Linked DNA regions of Homo sapiens: region 1 is linked to region 2. Evidence: fine-mapped expression QTL. A gene starts in region 2. The other region holds a variant in brackets. All regions are shown on one strand. Distances are between the middles of the regions. Region 1 overlaps SYT7 (synaptotagmin 7). Region 2 holds the start of SAXO4 (stabilizer of axonemal microtubules 4).

Region 1 (4,379 bases), 33 kb before region 2:
AATACTTCACCTACCTCATAGGGGAGGTTGTGAGGCCACCATCACCTGACCTGGGGGTCAAGGCAGGAGGACTCCGAAGGTGCTACCCGTGAGCAAAGTGTAATTACCGAATCCTGACTGCAAGGCCCACCTGCCCCTCCCCCACAGAGCCTCCAGAGCTAGCTGAGGCCAACGCAGGCCCATCCGTCTCTTCACTCTGTCGCAGGCCCTTTCATGGGCTTCGTCTGCCATCTTTGTGGGTGCCCTAGACTTAGTCCTTATCTTGTCCTGGTTTCCTTTCTTGTGACCATCTCCCCATGAAAGTGCTGTACAAATTCCACCCGCCCCAGGACCCCCGCACCTGCCCTCTGGCACCAGATGCCAGGGAAGGGACAGAGGAAAACAGCCACAAACAAGCCAGGGGGGCTCCCCGGAGCCCCAGGGGTGGGGATTGGTGGCCACTGTTTGTATGTTCTTGAGTGCAAGTGTTTTATAAAAAATAAAACAAAAACCCACCATCACAAAAAAAAAAATTTTGCAGCGAAGAGAAATGAAGAAAAACTGAAGAAAAAAAAAAAACAGGAAAAAAAGAACCATACAAAATTTTTCCACCACACATACCCTCTAAGCCAGCAAGATTTCCTCTTTGCAAAATCATATTTTTGTGGGAATGGGCCCTGCTTTTTGTGGCAAGGCCTGTTCTGATTAATAAAGGATCGTGAAAAAGTAGGGCCTTGGCTGTTTCCTCCGTGGGTCCCAGCCCTCCCTCACCTCCCTGGGGGCAGAGGCAGTGGGGTGAAGGGGATGGGGGCCCCGGGGCTGAGCCTCCCCTCAGTGTGTCACCTTTGGGATTTGACTTCACTGGTGACCAGGCCCTTCCCGAGTGTCCAGCCATCCTCAGATCTCTATAGAATATGATCCCACTGGCTTCCCAGAAAGCAGAGAGGCAGCTACATCTCCCAGATCAGGCCTGACACAAGGCTTTTTGGGAGTAGAGTCCTCTCTAGGCCTCAGGGGTGCCCTCCAGGGTCACCCAGCCTGACGTCCCCTCCCTCAGTTCCCAGAGGACACTTGCCACCCTCCAAGGCAGCTCAGACAAACCAAAGGGGGACGCTCCAGCTTTCCCACCACCATCCATGGGGCCACTGTAGTTTCAGGCCAGCGCCTCCTTCCTGGTCCCTGAGGTGGGAAAAGGAAAGACAATGAGCTCTGTGTCTGTTGGCTGGACCTGCGGCTTCTCTCAGCCCTCTTCTAGTTTCATTCTTTAGGATTAGAAAAGTCTCTTCCACTCAATAGAACAGGTTCCAGCCTGAGGTGTGGGAAGCTGGGTTGTAATCCCTTCTGCAGCCTCTGTGGCCCTGGGCAAGCTCTTTCCTTCCACCTGTTTCTTCTGGCCACAACAAAGCAATAACCATCCCCATCCCCTGCCCTTTCTTCCCCACCCAGCCCAGGGGAAGCTGAGCCCCCGCAGCTCTCAGGGTACTTCAGAAGGAAGGTGCTACATCTGGTTCAGACACAGGCACAAAAGGAACGAGCACATCCCCATTGTCATGTGTCCACCTGCTGGCCCCTGCCCCCACCAGGAGTGAAGCGGGCCATCCCATCCGCCCTCTGCTCCCAGCACTTGGGGCCAGCAGCTGCCTCCCGGAGCTGCACTAAGTACCCCATCCAAAGCTGTCTGTCCCTCATTTCCCACAACCTGGTTTAGATATCACTTCTGATCTCTGTTCCAGAGATCAGAGGAAGCCCCGGGGTCAGGTAAGTAGCCTCAGGGGCTCCCTTGGCCAGAGCTTCTGTTCAGGCGCTCTCCATGAAAGCAGCCCTGGAAAACTGAGCCTGAAGTCAGAGACAGCTCAGGCCCAGCACAGGGGGCAGTCCCTTGCCACTGGCTCGGGCCCTTCCCTGGACTTTTTGCCTTCCTCCATTTTTGCTTCTCTGGGTCTGTCTTCGTCCATGCCTGCTCTGAGATGCTCCCCCACCCCTCCCTGTACCTGGGACCACCGCCCTCTGGTGTTTTCTTTCTCCTGTGAGTCCCCCCCTGGATACTGCTGCTTTCTGGAAGGCTGTCCTGGGTTACGTCCTG[C/T]GCTCCTCTCCCTCCCACGCAAAGACAACCAGAAGGACAAGCCTTGAGCACGCCGATGCCCCAGCTCGTGGCTCCCCAGACCATCTGTTTCCCGTGAAGACGCCCCGCTCCCCGTGTCTGTGTCCTGCGTGTATGTGTCGTGTCTTGTGTAGATTGTGAGCCCCCTGGGCAGGGATCCCTGTCTGCATACATGTTCCATGTGGCACGCCCAGGTGTGCTAATAAACGTTCATCTTCAGAACAAGATCGCCAGGTGTCTTGGGGAAGCTTTGGGACAGATGGCTGAGTAAGCCAGTGTGGTGGCATGGGAGGCAGGGAGGGACTTCTGGGTAGGGCCCCCAGCTCCAAGAACCTGTTCTCCCACTTTCCTGAGTCCCATGAGGGTGGGTGGGAAGGGGGTGAGGAATGGCATTCACAAGGTTAGAAAAGGCTCCAGGCCTGGGTCTCTGCTGCCACACTGGCCAGCAGGGCTGCTTGCCTGGAGGCTGGTGGGGGCGGGGGCCTCAAGAACAGGCGCAGTTCTCAGCCATTCCATTCCACTCACAGACCTGACTGCCAGCCAGGGACCAAGCAGCTCTTCTGTGACACAGTGAGCACTGGGTTGGGAGTCCTCACACCGCTTACGGGTGAGTCACTCGCGCCCACACCCCCCCCAACCCTGTTTCTTGCCCTGCCGCCTCCTCTGCCTTTCCCTCCACTTGGTTCCCACAGTAGGAAGGAAGCTTCTTGCTCTGACCACCAGCGCCCTTGGCCTCTGCCCCTGAATCCCTGGTACAAACATGACTCTTGCAGAACTTCCCTGCCCTATTCCCCCATGGCCTGCCCACCTCTGACTGCCCCAGGACGATGTGGGGAACCGCAGAGGCAGCCCATCCATCCCGTCCCATTGTTACAAGCGTCCCTTCCAGTCTCCCCTGCCCCCTACTCCCCAGAGGCCAAGTGGGAATCACAGGAAGTTGTGGGTGGGGGAATGCTAGGACTCCTAATACAGTGCTATCTCCATCACCGAGGGGAGCCGTGACACCCAGTTTTCCCTGGCAGTTAGCTCCCTCCCTACTCACATGGAGACAGAGACCCTCAATCGTGCTCTGTAGCATCAGCACCCAATTTAGCCAAACTCAAACTTTCCAGAAGGGACTGGCTTCTGAGGGTGGAGAGCAAGTGAGTAGCAGGGCCAGGGACAGAGCCCATTCCCATTCCCTGGGGGAGCGCCTGCTCAGCTGGCAAGCAGTCATGGCTGCGGGTGCCACGTTTGACAAAGCAAAAGGGTAAGGCCCTGAGTGCCTCAGGATGGCCCGGGGGACTCATTGCCAGGACTTTGCCCCAACCTAGAGTCCTCAGGTGAGAGCAGCAGGGGAGGAGGTACAGGGAAACAGATCAGACAGAGGGAGGAGACCTGAGCTCACTAATGACAGCAGTTATTGCAGGTGACCATGGCTGCCTCTGCACCCTGCTGCTTCTGTGTCTAAGATTTGCATGAAAGGAAGGTAAACAAACCCCTTGCATGAAGTATTGAGCTGCAGCATCAGATCTAAATAAACCCAATTCCTTGGGCCAGGTGCAGTGGCTCACGCCTGTAATTCCGGCACTTTGGGAGGCCGAGACAGGCAGATCACCTGAGGTCAGGAGTTCGAGACCAGCCTGGCCAACATGGTGAAACCCCGTCTCTACTAAAAATACAAAAAAATCAGCCGGGCGTGGTGGTGCACACCTGTAATCCCAGCTACTCAGGAGACTGAGACAGGAGAACTGCTTGAACCTGGGAAACTGAGGTTGCAGTGAGCCAAGATCATGCTGCTGCATTCCAGCCTGGGCAACAGAGAGAGACTCCATCTTGGAAAATAAAATAAAAGTAAAGTAAATAAATAAATAAACCCAACTCTTCGTGTACAGACGAAGAAGCTAAGGCCCAGGGGGGTCGTGACTTGCTCAAGATCACTTGGTCAATAGCAGAACCAGGCCTGCAACCCCTGCCTTCTGATTGTAGGCCCAGGGGTATTTTCCCTATGCTGTGATACAAGTGGCAGGTCAAGAGGAGAGTCCCCAGTCAGCTGCAGCTCCTACCCCACCTGAGTGATCTTCTCTCAAATTACTTTCTCCAAGTTTCCAGACCCCTGAAAGGCCCACTGGCCCTGATGGAACCCCAACAGGGGGAACTCTGGGAGGGACAAGGTCTACAGCAGCCAGGCCCCAGACCCTCTTCCTCCTTGGGAAGGTGGCAGTCTCCAATCTTCCCCACCCACCACCTCTTTCTGTCCGTTCAAGGCCTTCACTCTCATTTGCAAGCTGACAGCCCCAGACCCATGCCCAGCCTCCTC
Region 2 (4,379 bases):
CACCTCCACCTTGACCAACTGTTGGCAGTGCAGCCCTAGCCCCACCCCACCCTGAGGCTTCCCTCTCCTGGCCCTGGCCCAGCACTGACCTCCTTGGTGGGGGGACCCGCACTGGGCTTCTCCCGCCCATAGCCTGAGCTGGTCTGGCGCATGCTCCAGGGCAGGGGATGCTTGCCGTCAGGCACCTCCAGGGGGCGGTAGCTCTGGCTGGCCACAGACTGGAAATGGTCCTGGGCTTGTTCCCTGAGGGTGAGGAGGAGCTAGAACCCCAGGCCGCCTGCCTCTGTCCTCTGCTAAGGAGCTTCCCTCCTCCCTGCACCCTCCCACAGATGGCTCAGAGGTCCGCTGTGCCCTGAGTCACCCAGGACCCCCAGCCTAGGGCAGGCAAAGCTCAGGGTCCCCATCCAAGGAACCTGGAGTTGGTCTGATGAGCAGGGCAGGGGCTGGGAAGGGGCCATACAGACCGTACCCCCTGGCCGGGTTGTCTAAGGCCTCCAGACTGGCTTGGCATGAGACCACGGGCTGGAAATTTGATTTGTAGCCGGTGCCTACGTGACTGCCCACACGGGGCTTGAAATCCTCCCGACCTGCCAGAGGGGTAACGGGGAGACAGACCCCAAGGTCAAAAACAGGCAGGGCTTCCCAGGCAGGGCCAGCGTCCTCCGAGGGGCACAGGGGTCACAGTGACAGGGGAGGGCTCAGAGCCACGGGCAGGAGCTTTGCAAGCCTGCCCTTTCAGGACTGTGATGGCAGGAAATGGAGTGGGTGGGCTGGGGACAAGGTCAGTGTGGCAGAATCACAGTGACAGAATTGCAGGGACAGAACCAGAGAAGGGAGCAGCCGGGCAGGGCCCAGGGGACAAACGGATTCAGCAGTTGCTCTGCAGTGTGACAGCCAGAGGGTCTGCTCCTCCCTCAGAGAGAGCCCCTCCCTTCCTGCCCATGTCCTAGCAGAGGCTCCTGCGCAAAGGCACCCTCACCGTAGGCGGTGCAGTAGCTGGTGGCGTAGAATTTCAGGGGGTCCGTGTAGCCCCCCGAACTCATCTTCACATAAGGGGAGACGACCCCCAGGGGGAGTTTCCCCATCATGATGCTGTGGGGCAGGGCCCCAGGGGGCCTAGAAAGGAAGCACGGGGAGCCTCATGGGTCCCAAGCCTGGCTCGGAAGCCCACAGGGGCGAAGATCTGCCCCCCACCACCCACAACGCAGCTGGCCCCTTCTCCCAGGCCTCTGTCTCTCTGCCCCAGCTCCCAAGTCCCTAAACTAAGGACGAAACCGATCATCCACACTTATCCCAAGAGTCCTCATGTCTCCTCTCACTTTCCCACACCTTCTTATTAACTCTTCCTGTCCCCATTTACCACTGGGACAGTGAGGTTCCAAGTGATAAAGGATTTGCTCCATAATAGGTGGTAGTGCTGGGATTCAGACCTAGGTGTTTGACTACTCGGCCCCTGACCTGAACCTTACATACCCACCTCTCGGAATGAATGAGCCGACAACCCACTACCTGGGGAATTCTTGGCCCCCACCCAAGAAGTCAGGCCGAGGCGCTCACTCCCAGCCCCCGGCTCCTCTCTCTCCCTCATCTCCATGGCCTTGCCCGCCTCTGGCCTTGCCTGCCTCCCCTGGGAATTGGCTGCACTCTCCCCGAGGCCCAACCACAGCGGCCCCACCCTCACCTTTCCTCTGCAGAGGCTCTGAGGTCGGGGAGAGGCTGCAGGAAGCAGAGCTCTGCAGAGAAGCCAGCCCTCCTGGAGGAGGCCAAGCAGGAGAAACAATGTGTAGCCTAGCAACTGGTGCCTAGCAACAGCGTCCCCAGGCTTCTGAGACCTTCTAGGGCCAGGGCCCACTGAGGGGCTGACCTGGCCAGGAGGGGAGGGTCAGAAGCTGCCCGAGCAAGGCCCTGCTTCCAGGGCTCCGGCCCCAACCTCCGGCCTCCTCCACAGGGCTGGGAAGAGTTGCTGTCTGCGTGACATAAAATAAAAGATAATCCCGAACACTCACTCCCATAAAGTACCCACTTCTCGGCAGATACTTTACATCCTCTATCTCCATCCTCTGAGCAGCTCTTCAGTAGCTATGATTATCCCCATTTTCACTGGGGGAACATGAGGCTTAGATAAGCAAAATGACTTGACTCCAGAGATCTCGCAATCAGAAAATAGCCAAGTTGAGATTCAAACGTGGGTGGATGTGGATCCCGCTCTTCTGCCTCTCGGTAAATCAACATTTACTATGTTCCTCTGGAGCTGAATCTGTGCTAAGCCCTTTAACACACATTACGTCGTGTAATCCCCCAAACCACCCTGTGAACTGGGCACTATTATTGTAGGGCCAATAAACCGCAGCAGTTAAGAGTGTGGTTCAAATCTGATCTGTCACCTTTGATGAGGTACTTATCCTCTTCACGCCCCCAAATCCCCATCTTCGCAAGGGACGTGACTGCACCCACCTCACAGGGCTGCTGGCAGATTTAGCAAGAGCATGGATTCAGCACCTGACAGGTAGTAAATGCTCTTTTTTTTTTTTAAGAGAGACAGGATCTTATGCTCTCACCTGGGTTGGAGTACAGAGGTACCATCATAGCTCAGTCCAGCCTCCAACTCCTAAGTTCAAGCAATCCTCTTGCCTCAGACTCTCAAGTAGCCAGAACTACAGGTGTGCTCCCCCCTGCCTGACTTGCTTATTTATGTATTTATTTGTTGTAGAGACAGCGTCTTGCTATGTTGCTCAGGCTGGTCTTGAACTCCTGGCCTCAAGTGATCCTCCTGCCTCAGCCTCCTGAGTTGCTGGGATTGCAGGGGCAAGCCACCACACTCGGCAAATGCTCAATTTGCAAAAGCTGCTGTACTTTTAGTCTTATTTTGCAGATAGGAAAGGCGAGGCTCAAGGGGAAATAGCCCAGGCCCCACAGTGGGTGGAGACGGAGCCTGGACTCAAATCTGAGTGCGCAAACTCCACAGTGAGAATCTTCTTCCATGACAGCCTTTTTGCCTCAAATTGGCTTTCAGGCTTGTAAATGTTGTAACAGTTAGATCTCTGGGTGGGGTGGGATAGCCCTACTTTGCAGCATTTGCCAATTTCTGTGATGTCAGTGGTCCCATCAGGGCTGCTTTCAAACCACCACTACAGTGTCTTTGAACCGGGACATGGGAAGGTCGCTCACCACTGTACGGGAGTAGTCCCATCATGCAGACATAATGGGCGTAAGTAACCTCGACAGCACAAATAATAGAAAAATGTACTCACATAATTAAGGGGTGATGAGTTTTAGGTATTTTTTTTTGTTTTTAATATAATTCATTAAATTGCAGGTTTAAGTTATTTATTTATTTATTTATTTATTTATTTATTTATTTATTTATTTGAGATGGAGTCTTGCTCTGTCCCCCAGGCTGGAGTGCAGTGGCACGATCTCAGCTCACTGCAACCTCCATCTCCTGGTTCAAGCAATTCTCCTGCCTCAGCCTCCTGAGTAGCTGGGATTACAGGTGCACGCCACCACGCCCAGCTAATTTTTGTATTTTTAGTAGAGATGGGGTTTCACTATGTTGGCCAGGTTGGTCTCGACCTCCTGAGCTCAAGTGATCTGCCTGCCTCAGCCTCCCAAAGTGCTGGGATTACAGGCGTCAGCCACCGCGCTCGGCCAGTAATTTAATTTTTAACAATGGCAGAGTTAAAAACCAGCTTGCCAATTTCCTGGAAGTTTCGCCTTCAGCTCTCCTGAGCCGGTAGAGCTGGCTTCAGAGCACCCCTGCTCTCAGGGGAGAGTGAGGTATGAATGAAGGCTGAATAAAGGGAAAGGAGGCATCTCCTTTCCTCACCCAGGAGATGCCCTTGCCGCATTCATCCTGTAGTGACCTGGCCTGCCAGGGTGGAGGCTCACTCGTGTCCTCACCCAGCCCCCCATGGGAAGGCAAGCTGAAGCACGTTTGGCACCCACCCTCCGGACTAACGATTCTGTTCAGGGATCACAGGGCACAAGGACACAGGAGTGAGTGCACACAGCCCTGCCCTCCAGCAAAGTGCTCCCATTCTACTACAGAGGCTCGTGGGAGTTCCACACACGAAGCACAAAGGGTGAGACCACCATAGGTGAGGTGCTCACAGGGTGAAGGGAGAGAGGGGCCCTCCTCTAAGTGTGCCTGGATAAGTGGCTACGAGCAAGAGCTTGGACTCTGAAGCCAGATGGTGTGGGTCCTGTCTCTGCCACTAGATAACCGTAAGACAGTGCATGTTCCTTGTGCCTCAGTTTCCCCTTCTGGAGAATGAGTATAATAATGGTAACTACCTGCAGGGTTGTGGTACGCACGAAGCATTTAGCCCAGTACCTGGCACACGGTAGGTGCCATCTAAGAGCTAGGGAAAGAGGTTCCT

Evidence for each region. PIP is the estimated chance that this variant, and not a neighbour inherited with it, causes the effect. A credible set is the group of variants that fine-mapping cannot tell apart.
Region 1: its variant is the best candidate, but not a certain one, in a credible set for the expression of SAXO4 in gastroesophageal junction (GTEx, PIP 0.87).

What each region holds. Positions count from the first base shown.
Region 1 is chr11:61,511,642-61,516,020 of GRCh38, reverse strand. SYT7 (synaptotagmin 7) reads left to right here. Exons shown (of 13, transcript NM_001365809.2): 13 at 1-2,307. Among named protein-coding and RNA genes, the nearest start is that of LRRC10B, 5.1 kb to the right of the region's middle. RefSeq lists an enhancer at 2,567-3,180. The variant C/T (reference allele first, on the strand shown) is at 2,063.
Region 2 is chr11:61,478,519-61,482,897 of GRCh38, reverse strand. It overlaps SAXO4 (stabilizer of axonemal microtubules 4), which reads right to left and starts at 1,778. Exons shown (of 14, transcript NM_145017.3): 1 at 1,682-1,778; 2 at 980-1,116; 3 at 470-587; 4 at 90-243. The coding sequence starts at 1,088. RefSeq lists an enhancer at 47-341.